Linked DNA regions of Homo sapiens: regions 1 and 2 are each linked to region 3. The links come from fine-mapping of genetic effects on gene expression. A gene starts in region 3. Each other region holds a variant in brackets. All regions are shown on one strand. Distances are between the middles of the regions.

Region 1 (4,241 bases), 22 kb after region 3:
CTCCTGGGAAGACAATTCTAACAAACAACTCTATTATATCTATCCAGTTTGATTTTGTCCTCTTTCTCTTCCTCCTGGTAATAACAGCCTTAATCTTTTTTGGATCATGAGTTTTTGTGGTGTCTTTCCAAATCGCACTGTATTCTATCTTTAGAGATACAAGATTATGACTTGCTGTTTCAGAATCTAGAGTCAGATCTATGTAAAATGAATTAAGAATGTTTTGTCGACCATAATGTTGTGGCAGAAGTCTAGAATCATCATCCCTTGTTAAAATGGAAAAGCTCATAAAGTTTTTGTCTTAATACCTGTTATTGATACATACCCTTATATCAGTTACTAATTATTTGAGTGAATAGTTTACTCTGCTATCTCACTTATTAGAGCTTTAAATAAGAAAATATGGTCTGAAAGTTTTGTTTTCATCTAGTGTGCGTATCATATCCTATTCTTTATATTTTCAGGTTTTCAGAACTGCATCTTATTCATTTTCCGAATAAAGCACAAAGTGCTCAAAATCAGAGTTTAATCTCTTCCTCTAATATTCGACTATCTTCGGTAGCATTCATGTATTTTTAGTTAACATAACGATTGGTTTAGTTTTGGCTTATTTAAAGCATTTTACACTTGCTGTTTCAGATGTCAGATGTCCCCTGTGAGCTTCTTCCTTGAGGCAGCCTGCTCTATAGGACAGGTGAGCCCAGCGGGAGCCAGCCCACTGCAGACCCAAACCCTCTAGTCCTTGTCACAAAAAGAGGCTGGGACCTGATGGTGGTTCTCTTCCTGACTTTTCCTGGTGGTCCTTCTGACTTGGAGTGGCCTGGCAATTTCGGTGGCGTGACAGCCGGAATGCTGCCACTAAAATTCCTCTCTGGGCACCATGAGCGGCTGACAGGGCACGCGGAGAAAACGATTCGCTTCTCCCAGGATTGGTGGAGCGACCGCTGTTGGACGAATGTGGTCGTCCCTGGATGTCTGAGCAAAGAGACACTGCCATGGCGGCCGCCGGTCAGCGTATAAGGTCTGTTAGGGAGACCCGAAGCCCTGCACCAGGAACGCAGTTTGGCTCGCCCAGCCCACCCTGCAGGGCTGGCTCTCCAGGCGCTGGGTCCGGGGAGAAGAGGACAGCTGCCCCGCCGCACCGCGCATCCTTCCATCCACTGTGGTACATGGCGCTGCCCCGGTCTCCAACGTCGCGCCACACCTTCACGGTCTCACCCGGAAGTCGAAGCCCAGAGACGGTGCCGGCCGCACCCAATCACTGCTCTGCCGCTCCGACTTCCGCTACGGACTCGCCCAGCCTCCTGGGAGAAACGCTGCAGTGCTTGGGGTGCTGAAGCCCCTTGAGAGCCTTGTGTTCTGTGAGAAAGTTGCATTCTGAAGGAACCTCAGCTGTTTGCTTTGCTCTTCTGCCACCCAACCCTACCTGTGCCAGACTGAGGGCTCTCCCTGCCCCGCCTTAACAGAAGAGAATTCCAGTTGCTGTTTTAATTTATTGAATCTTATTTATAACTGGTTGGAGAAAAATATGGTTATAATTCCCACTGAACAGCTTATTAAAAGTTACAGTAACACTATGATAATTGAGATATTGTCTTTTAGGGAATAAATAATGAAATTATAAGATGAAATATACAGATGAAATTATAAGATGTCTGGGAATTTACTCCATTGGCAGGAGAAGTT[G/C]CTGGGGTTATAAAGATTGTTAATTCAAATGATAGAAATTGGTTTCTTTTTATGTGTACGTTCTTCATAATGTTCTCTCTACTATTATGGATGTATGAAATACTCCACAATTTAAAAGCTTCCTTTTATACCCGGCATGGAAGCTCATGCCTGTAATCCCAGCACTTTGGTAGGCTGAGGTGGGCGGATCACATGAGCTCTGGAGTTTGAGACCAGCCAGGCCAACATGGTGAAACCCTGTCTGTACAAAAAATACAAAAATTAGCCGGACATGTTGGCCCGCCCCTGTGGTCCCAGCTACTCCGGAGGCTGAGGTGGGAGAATCGCTTGAACCTGGGGAGTTGAGGTTGCAGTGAGCCAGGATGGCGCCACTGCACCTCAGTCTGGACGACAGAACGAGAGCTTGTCTCAAAAAAATAAATAAACGAAAGATTTATTTCAAAAGGCTAATCATGTTTCAGCGTTATCAATGCCTCGTTCCAGAAAAGCTCATTTCTCTTACTCTTTTCTTTGAGCCGCCTCCCCGTTTTCAGTCCGCCTCAGGGCTCTCAGATTCTGTCTCCTTTGTCTTCCTCCTCACAGTTGTCCCTAATCTTAATCGATTTTCCATCCTCTACCAATTTCCTGTCTACACCCTCTTTAATCTCATAAAACTGCCAAATTAGTTTAAATCGGGATTGAGGAAAGAGCGAGACTAGGCATTGTGCTTCCATCTGGGTGTGTGTGTCTTGTGTGTGGATCCCAGGCCTGGTCTCAGATTACCTGAGTCATCTGGGGCTGGTCCCTGATATCCTCTCTTCATCCTTTTGTGGTCACATGAAGACAAGGAAAATCAACCTCAATTTCCCTTTAAGTTTTCTGTAAATATAAACACCAATAAAGACATATCTTCTGGAAAACTTGTTTTTTTTTTTTTTTTTTTTTTGAGACTGAATCTCTCTTAGTCACCCAGGCTGGACTGCAGTGGCAAGTTCGTAGCTCACTGTAGCCTCAAACTCTTGACCTCAAGCAATCTTCCTGCCTGGGCCTCCCACACTACTCGGGTTGCAGTCTTGAGCCATTGAGCTCAGCCTGGAAAAAATTTTTTAAAACATAGGATTTGGTGTGGCACAGAACTCAATATATTCCAAGAATGGTTTGTGTTTCTGATTCTTCTGTTGACTGTTTAATGGTAGATATGCTGATTATGCAGAACAGTTCAGACATAATTAGATGTAATTAGGGCAAACCAGCATGAGGCCCCTTATGAGAAGTCCAAATCTGTGATTGTCATACAACATACAAAAGAACTGTCTCATATACGATGTCAGAGTAAAGAGTGAACCAAATAGGTTATGTGTAGGACATGTGTATACTACTATAATACCATAATAATTTTTTTTTTTTTTTTTTTTGAGATGGAGTCTCCTTCTGTCACCAGGCTGGAGTGCAGTTGCACGATCTCGGCTCACTTCAACCTCCGCCTCCCGGGATCAAGCGATTCTTCTGCCTCTGGCTCCTGAGTAGCTGGGACTACAGGTGCCCTCCACCATGCCCAGCTAACTTCTGTATTTCTAGTAGAGACAGGGTTTCATCATGTTGGCCAGATGGTCTCGATCTCTTGACCTTGTGATCTGCCTGCCTTGGCCTCCCAAAGTGCTGGGATTACAGGCATGAGCCACTGTGCTGGGCCAATAAAATTTTAAGTAAATATAAAACAGCATATTTATATTTTATTTTTTGTAGAGATGGTTGCCCAGGCTGGTCTGGAACTCCTGACCTCAAGCGATCTTCCTGCCTTGACCTCCCAAAGTGCTGGGATTATAGCCATGCTGCCAACCATGTGTAGGGTATGTATATGTTCCTATACCATAATAAAATTTTAATTACATTTGTAAGGTATGTAATTATATGTATTTCTGTATAATATGTACATATAAATATGCTAATTAATACAAGAACATATTGAATTATAATCAATATATATAATTTTAGATGTATATTGGAATGTTTATCTTTCTAATAATACAAAACTGATGGTTAAAAAATAAAATGCACAAACTCCCCAAGGTTCCTTCCTATGTGGCTACTTTCCCCAGCTTAGGTCCAGCCAAAGGCTGCACGCCCTTTACTGAGTGTAGCTCACCTGTGCCTCCTGGTGCAATCCTCACTCAGATATTCTGCTCCCAGTAGAGGGTTAGTGTAGGGTGCGGAGCCTACCTGTATTCACTTGTCAGCAGTTCACTGGGGATTGTCAGCTTTTTCCATCCTTGCAGAGCTGTTTCTTCGTCGATCCAGGTCAGAAGACGCAACACAGTCCCTACTTCTTGTTCACCAAAATGGTGACCTCAGAACGAATTCAGTCTTAAACCCTGTAGGGAGTTTTTTTTTCCTTATGCAGTCAGCATGGGGGAAGTGACAGGTCCCAGAGGGCAGTTCTCTCTTGTTCTCTGATTGCTCCTGCAGGGTCCTGGGTTGGTGAAGGGGACAGGGGTAGGGACCTGCAGAATGGTTGTGATGGGGTGGGAGCTGCGGAAGTAACACATCATGCACTGAGTGGAGCATAAGGGCAAGTG
Region 2 (4,241 bases), 34 kb before region 3:
GTAATCCCAGCACTGTGGGAGGCCAAGGCAGGCAAATCACCTGAGCTCAGAAGTGAGACCAGCTAGGGCAGCATGGTGAAACCTAAAGAAATACAAGAAATTAGCCAGGTGTGTCAGTGTACTTGGGAAACTGAGGTGTACCACATCTCTGTCTCATGAGCCTGCATCATCCACTATCCACTCTGCTGGCCTCAAATCTGCCTCCCAAACCAAACCATTTTCATCCTCATGGACTGTTGTGAGGCACCCTTGCAGGATCACTCCACAGGCCCACTGGTCTGGTGAGGTCACCTCCCACCCCCCAAACCCCACCTAAGGTTCCTGCCCCTTCCCTGAGTCCAGGCTCATCTCTACTCCAGGGGGACCTTGTTATTGATGACCCAGCCCTATATTTCTATGAGATTTACCTCTCAGAAACTCTATCAGGTTCTCGCAGTGAATATCAGAAAAACATCCTTTGTGCTTCTCACAGAGGCAAGTAGAAGTACCCTTTTTACAGCCGGGCGCGGTGGCTCACGCCTGTAATCCCAGCACTTTGGGAGGCCGAGGCGGGTGGATCACGAGGTCAGGAGATCGAGACCATCCTGGCTAACACGGTGAAACCCCGTCTCTACTAAAAATACAAAAAATGAGCCGGGCGTCGTGGCGGGCGCCTGTAGTCCCAGCTACTCCGGAGGCTGAGGCAGGAGAATGGCGTGAACCAAGGAGGCGGAGGTTGCAGTGAGCAGAGATTGCACCACTGCACTCCAGCCTGGGCGACAGAGCGAGACTCCGTCTCAAAGAAAAAAAAGTACCCTTTTTACTTTTTCTTGTATTTTCCATAAATTTTATTTTAAGATAAATTTTAGATGCACAGCAAAATTGGGCAGAATGTACAGATATAGCCCACATGTGCCCTTCCCCTACATAAGCACAGCCTCTGCCACTAACAGCATCCCATCCAGAGTGGCATACTTCTTACAACTGATGAATCTACATTGAATCATCATTATCACACAAGGTCCATAGTTTACACAGGATTTCACTTTTACATTTTGTGGCAGATGAAAAATGTATGGTGTGTATTCACTATCATAGCACCACACAGAGTAATTCACTGCATTTAGCATATCTCTGTGCTCTTCCTGTTCATCTCTCGCACCCTCCAACCCCGTCAACCACTAATTCTTTTACTGTCTTCATAGTTTTTCCATTTTAAGAATTTTATGCCTTTCGGCCAGAGCCACCATCTTCCAGTAATTCACCAAAATGATGAACACAAAGGGAAAGAGGAGAGGCGCCCGATATATGTTCTCTAGGCCCTTTAGAAAACATGGACTTGTTCCTTTGGCCACGTATATGCGAATCTATAAGAAAGATGATATTGTAGACACCAAGGGAATGGGTACTGTTCAAAAGGAATGCCCCACAAGTGTTAGCATGGCAAAACTGGAAGAGTCTACAATGTTACCCAGCATGCTGTTGGCATTGTTGTAAACAAACAAGTTAAGGGCAAGATTCTTGCCAAGAGAATTAATGTGCGTATTGAGCACATTAAACACTGTGAGCCGAGATAGCTTCCTGAAACACATGAAGGAAAATGATCAGAAAAAGAAAGAAGCCAAAGAGAAAGGTACCTGGGTTCAACTAAAGCGCCAGCCTGCTCCACCCAGAGAAGCACACTTTGTGAGAACCAATGGGAAGGAGTCTGAGCTGCTGGAACCTATTCCCTATGAATTCATGGCATAATAGGTGTTAAAACAAAAAATAAATAAAAGACCTCTGGGCTGTAAAAAAAAAAAAAAAGAATGTTACGTTGTAGGAATCATACAATATTAGCCTTTTCATAACATCTACCCACAAAAACCTCTTTGAATACATAGTCTGGAGCAATGAGTGCATTGCTCTCAACACATGCAGAAATGGGAGAGACCTTTAGAGAACTGTCTCCCACAGTCATGTCTTCTCTGCCACCTGAAATTTGTATGATACAGAAAATATTTTATTGTATGCAAAATTGATTAGACTAAAGGGATCACAATTTCATACACTCTAGTTTTAGATTTCCAGAACACTTAATAGTTTATCCTCACATCTGTTAATTTCTACAATATCTCTTGCTATTGAAACAAAATAATTTTTGAAAATAAGATAAAACAAAATGAGAAGACTAAACTTATAAAAGTACTTTATAAAACTTATGG[A/G]TGCTAAATTCAGTGACAACTGTATAAATTACAGGAAGAAAATGAAGCAATGTCACAGTTCAGCCATCATAATCTGTCATTATGCAGATTCTAAGAGGTTTTGAATCATGCCCCATACAGAAATAAGGCTTCAGTACTTCTGAAAATGTATCAGTGAAGGAATGGATGTGAGACCTGTCATTCAAATTGTAAAAGGAGATCTCGCCCAACTTGTAGTCCAGATAAATGCCAATTCCTCTGGGCTTCTCCTTTAGCGGAAGGATGACAGGAACAGCGCCTCAGGCCACACACTCACCATTCTGCAGCTGGATAGCCCAGCACATGCTCTGTCCTGACAGGGGCCACTTTCCCTTCCTGGGCAGGGATTCCTTACACACCCCCACGGTCCACATTGGCTTGTCATCCACTTGCACCTCCCAGTAATGCCGGCCACACTCAAATCCCTCAGAACCCAGGACCACTGGATGGGACAACAATCTCTTTGGATTCCAGTGAACTCTCTGACTTTCCTTCACAAATGTCACACATTTCTTATCCTCAGAGACACGCAGATGAGGATGTGCACTTTCAGGATCCAGAGTAACTTCTCTAAACTTCTGTATGATTTTCTGAAGAGCCGAGTACTGCAGGGGAAGCCTGTTTCCTTCCTTCTGGAGCTGCATAGAGTGGACAGCTGGGGCCTGCAGGCCTTACACCTGTGCAGGACGGTCCTTACATCCATCAGCAGTTTCACATCTGCCATCACACTCATCTCGGCCACCTGCGTAAGCAGACCTTTCAGGGTGGAAATGTGTTCTGAAAATGCCCTTATGTTTGCACCGAGTTTCTTCTGAATGTCCGTCTTTTCCTCAGCTAATCTACAGAAAGCTGCCTGCTTTTCATGGTCAACAAACTTCGTTAGGTGCTTCAACTGAGAGGATAATTCCTGCCTTTGGCTTTCTGTCTTCTCTCTGAGCTCCAACAACTTTCTGTCCTGGGTGGCTCACAGCTTCCTAACTTCAGGGTCTCAAGGTAACTGTGGAGCCTTTCCCTGTGATGGGAGGCAGCCTCCTCTATGGGGCTCACATGGTGGCCTTGGTGGTCATGGGTCTGAGTGCACAGGGGACACAACACCACCAGGTCCTCCTTGCAGAAAACACTCAGGGGCTGGTTGTGCTTCTCCCACAGGGGCATCTTGTCCTGCCTGACGTCATTGCCTCTGGCTCTCTGGAGTAGCTTGGCAATGTCAATCATCCTTCCCAGCTGGGTGTTGCTCCTGAAGTTTCCCTCTGGGCATTGGTGACTACAGACAGGGCAAGAGAACAATTCCTGTAGATCCAGCCAAGACTGTTGGATGCAGGAATGACAGAAGTTGTGTTCACATTCAATGGGAACGGGATTGCTCAGGTAATCCAGACAGATGGAGCACTTGGCCTCTTCCTGGAGTCCTGCCAGGGCTGCTGCCTCCGCCATCAGGCTGTGAATGAAGGTCTGGACAGAGAAGCTACTCTGCCCTCAGATCTCCCTGACCTTCCTGTCCTGAAGGTCTCCCTGTCTGTTGAAGTCAGTCGTTGACGTCCTCTGGGGTCACCAGCCTCAGCTTCTGAGAGCAGCTCTGCCTTCACCTGTGGCAGGTCATAGAGCAGTTGGGCAAGTAGCTGCGAAGCAATTCTCTTGTTCAGAAAGCAAACACGACTCTAAAGTGCCTGTGAGGTCCTGGGGATGAGAAAATATTTCTTCATTTACAAAAGGCTGCCATTTTCCTGGTACCCACAGAGCCCAACCTGCTGAAGAGGGCCCACCTTAGAGTAGAACTTCCTTCTTTTTGTGCTCTGCTCAATACCACATTTGAGGCAACCACTGATTCTTCCCTTCACTCTCAGCCATCTACCCACATCCAAATAAACCACACAGGGTTGCATGGTTTTGTGGAAATGACATCATATTGTGAACTAGATGCTGTGTCCTTGGGTTAGATTCTAGTCTTAGTCACATCCTCCATGAGGTACCTGAGAAAGTAACTTAACGTATTGGACTCAAGCAGAATCAACTACAGAAGGATAAAAATGCCAACTTCAA
Region 3 (4,241 bases):
GCGCCACCACGCCGGCTAATTTTTGTATTTTTAGTAGAGATGGGGTTTCACCATGTTGGTCAGGCTGGTCTCGAACTCCTGACCTTGTTATCCGCCCACCTCGGCCTCCCAAAGTGCTGGGATTACAAGCGTGATTTTTAATGCCACGTACTGTGACAGGGAAAGAAACCACCCTGCTGGCTGCATAGTTTGTTTAAATAGCATAATATACAGGGTGGGTGCAGTGGCTCACACCTTTAAGTAATCCCAGCATTTTGGGAGCCCGAGGCGGGTGGATCGCTTAAGCCCAGGAGTTTGAGATCAGCCGGGCCAACACAGTGAAACCCCCGTCTGTACTGAAAGCACAAAAACTTAGCCGGGCGTGGGTGGCACGCGCCTGTAATCCCAGCTACTCTGTAGGCTGAGGCAGGAGAACTGTTTGAACCAGGGAGGCTGAACCCGCGAGGCGGAGCTTGCAGTGAGCCAAAATGGCGCCATTGTACTCCAGCCTGGGCGAAAATAACAAATAAATACCATGCACTCACCTCACTGCAAAGTAATATGGGGGAAGCTGCTGCCACTGGTATTTCTTTTCCTTTCTTTTTCAGGAGACTCTGGAATTTCAAAAGGTTTACGAACAAGGACTTTGCTTTATCGGTTGATTTGTCTAGGTCACACCTCTATTCAACTGTCCACCATACACCCTTTCTAGGATATATTAAAGGCATCGACGGGTCTTTATTCCACAATTCAAATCTTAGTACTTCATGTTTAAAATGCTTCACTGGCTTTTCTTTGCATTTGATAAAAACCAATATCCTCAATTTTGCCTAAAGGGCCTTGCAGCATTCATTCTCGCCTATCTCATCAGCCTCACAAAGCCATTTTCCATATTTTATACTTCTTGCAATTTCCCACGTTGTAGTGCCAACCAAATGACCTCTTTCAGTTCCTTTTGTACCAAGTTTTTAAAAATTATCATCTCTAGGCAGGGCGCGGTGGCTCACGCCTGTACTCCTAGCACTTTGGGAGGCCGAGGCGGGCGGATCACGAGGTCAGGAAATCGACACCATCCTGGCTAACACGGTGAAACCCCGTCTCCACTAAAAATACAAAAAATTAGCTGGGCGTGGTGGCAGGCACCTGTAGTCCCAGCTACTCTGGAGGCTGAGGCAGGAGAATGGCGTGAACCCGGGAGGCGGAGCTTGCAGTGAGCCGAGATCACGCAACTGCACTCCAGCCTGGGCCACAGAGCGAGACTCCGTCTCAAAAAAAAAATAAAAATAAAAATAAAATTATCATTTCTGGCTGGGTGAGGTGGCTCACGCCTGTAATCCTGGCACTTTTGGGAGGCCGAGGCGGGCGGATTGCCTGATCTCAGGAGTTCGAATCCAGCCTGGGCAACACGATGAAACCCCGTCTCTACTAAAAATACAACAACAAAAAATTAGCCAGGCGTGGCGGCGTGCGCCTATAGACCCAGCTACTCGGGAGACAGAGGCAGGAGAATTGCTTGAAACTGGGAGGCAGAGGTTGCAGAGAGCCAAGATCGCGCCACTGCACTCCAGCCTGGGCGAAAGAGAGATTCCGTCTCTTATTAAAAGAAAAAAAAATCATTTCTAAAATATTTTGTAGACGCAGGGTCTGGCAATGTTACCTAGGCTTGTCCTGAACTCCTGGCCTCAAGCGATCCTCCCACCTCTGCCTCTGAAAGTGCTTGGATTACAGGTGTGAGCCACTATGCCCGGCCTGTACTAAATTCTTTAAAGTTGAGAGGCTCCACATTGGCTCTTCTTCCAGCCTTGAAGACTTTGACCGTGGAATTGATCCAACGAATGCCTCTTCATCCCTCAAATTCCGCCTGAAATGTCACTTCCTCAGGTAAACCTGAGTTCATAGGGTAGGGCACAATCCCACAGGGTGGGAGAGATCCACCCACTCACCCACTGAGATGCAAACTAATCCAAAGGGGCTTCTATTCCTCTTTCAAGCATAGGGAGTGCTCAACGACTCCACCCTGCGACCCCAGGCTACGGGAAGCAGTTGACCCTGCAAAGCTCTCCACTCCCTCACCATCTGGGAGGGGACGCTGTGCTGGTGAAGCTTTTAAAACCAACTTGCAGACTTACTTGGACCCTCAAGTTTACTCATATACATAAAAAGTGATAAGAATCCGAAAAGACAGCCAGGGGAATTAAATGCCAGTTGGGGCCAACGGGGCCCTGATCACGGAAGAGGGCGCCCCCAGCTCTCAATCTTCACACAATCCCTGCACCCAGGGTCACAGAGCATGCGCAGGTCCTTCCCGCCCACTTCCGGGGCAACTGCCAACCACCGCGCAGGCTGAGCCCCAGGCAGGAAGCAGCCCACTTGGTGGGGTTGGGGTATGAGTCCTTCCTCGCGGGGGCTCGGTGGGTCCTGAGTATTCTTTGGCCGGATTTGCTGATCCGTCTGCTCCAGGTGAGCTGGGAAGGCCGCAGGAAAGGCCCAGAAGGGCCTCGCCAGGAGGCTTAACTGGACAGGGGCTTCTTGAACATTCTCTGTGCCTAAACCTCCGGGTCGCTGCCTGCCCACGACTGGATCTCCTTAGTGTCTGGCGTAGCTCTTGTGAAAAATTCAGGATTGTAGAGTTAGAATGGGGGTGTTGAGCCTGTATCAATTAAGCTTTAAATGTTATGATCTGAATTAGGGTTTATGAAGTGGCTATGTTATCTTCAAAGAGTTAATGTACGTGTTTGGGAGTGGGGGTTGGGGAGTTAAGGGAGCGAAGTGGTAGCTGCCAGTTGAGAACCCACCAGCCTACGTCGTCTGCACCCTCGACCTATGTAAGCATCCTGTAATCCTCACAAGGGTCTTACAGGTACGAATTATCATTTCAACTTTGTAGATGAGGCGCTTTAGGTGCAGGCATGTTAAGAATCAGCCAGTATGATGATGGTTGAAACTGAGAGCTTGGAATCTACCACAGGTTTTATTTATTCCTCAAACAAGCTAGAGACGTATTGCCACCAAGAAGCTTGCTGCCTGGTGAGGGGTTTTTACAGTTAGGTAAAGAATTGCAGAGTAGCTGTAAAATCACATAACTGTGATATGTGACATGATGGGAGCTAGGCAAAAAACTTGGACTAGATCTTAATGGATCTTTTTGCTTTGTTTTCCTTAAAGCATAGGTTCACAAAGTACAGTCCGCAGGCCAGCAGCATCATCTGGGAACTTAGGAAAAAACCAGCCCTACTGAGTCAGAAACTGGGGATGTGGCCCAGGCAATCTTTTACCAAGACCTCCAGGTGATTATAATGCAAGGTAAGATTTGAGAATTGCTTCCATAAAGTAATAAAGGACCAGTGGAATGTTTTCAGTTGAAATATGAAAGGATTCTGTTTGTATTTGAAAAGGTCAGTTTAGCTACAGACTTCAGAAATTGGAGGCACCATTGTGTATCTAGGAGAGAGACATAAGTGGTTTAAACTAGGGTGGTGACTGTGCCTACAGAGCTGTTCTGTTCACTTAATGTCCTGATTTTAAATAGTAGAGAAGACTGCTTTGGGTGTATGCTTGGGGAAAGGAGGGCACAATGATACCTGGAGTGAGTCCTCTTGTGTCCTTTATGAAGGGGTGGCCTGCCCCTCCACACCTGTGGGTATTTCTAGTCGGGTGGGACGAGAGACTGAGAAAAGAAATAAGACAGAGACAAAGTATAGAGAAACAACAGTGGGCCCAGGGGACCGGCGCTCAGCATACCAAGGACCTGCACCGGCACCGGCCTCTGAGTTCCCTCAGTTTTTATTGATTATTATTTTCATTATTTCAGCAAAAAGGAATGTAGTAGGAGAGCAGGGTTATAATAAGGAGAAGGTCAGCAACAAACATGTGAGCAATAGAATCTATGTCATAATTAAGTTCAAGGGAAAGTACTATGACTGGACGTGCACGTAAGCCAGATTTATGTTTCTCTCCACCCAAACATCTCAGCGGAGTAAAGAATAACAAGTCAGCATTACTGCAAACATGTCTCGCCTCCCACCATAGGGCGGTTTTTCTCCTATTTCAGAATTGAACAAAGGTACAATCAGGTTTTATACCAAGACATTCAGTTCCCAGGGGCAGGCAGCAGACCGTGGCCTTCCTCCATCTCAACTGCAAGAGGCTTTCCTCTTTTACTAATTCACCTCAGCACAGACCCTTTACGGGTGTCAGGCTGGGGACAGTCAGGTCTTTCTCATCCCACGAGGCCATATTTCAGACTATCACATGGGGAGAAA

Evidence for each region. PIP is the estimated chance that this variant, and not a neighbour inherited with it, causes the effect.
Region 1: its variant is fine-mapped to the expression of TRIM61 in whole blood (TOPMed, PIP above 0.99). The same link has a PIP of 0.9 or more in blood mononuclear cells.
Region 2: its variant is fine-mapped to the expression of TRIM61 in whole blood (TOPMed, PIP above 0.99). The same link has a PIP of 0.9 or more in blood mononuclear cells.

The regions. Positions count from the first base shown.
Region 1 is chr4:164,953,939-164,958,179 of GRCh38, reverse strand. It overlaps FAM218A (family with sequence similarity 218 member A), which reads right to left and starts at 1,232. Exons shown (of 1, transcript NR_160935.1): 1 at 1-1,232. It also overlaps a transcript of TRIM61 not described here. RefSeq lists enhancers at 973-1,132, 1,433-1,482. The variant G/C (reference allele first, on the strand shown) is at 1,687.
Region 2 is chr4:165,009,853-165,014,093 of GRCh38, reverse strand. It overlaps the pseudogene LOC391713 and the pseudogene RPL21P51. Among named protein-coding and RNA genes, the nearest start is that of TRIM60, 20 kb to the left of the region's middle. The variant A/G (reference allele first, on the strand shown) is at 2,184.
Region 3 is chr4:164,975,729-164,979,969 of GRCh38, reverse strand. It overlaps TRIM61 (tripartite motif containing 61), which reads left to right and starts at 2,313. Exons shown (of 3, transcript NM_001414904.1): 1 at 2,313-2,439; 2 at 3,145-3,282. RefSeq lists enhancers at 2,035-2,094, 2,125-2,204.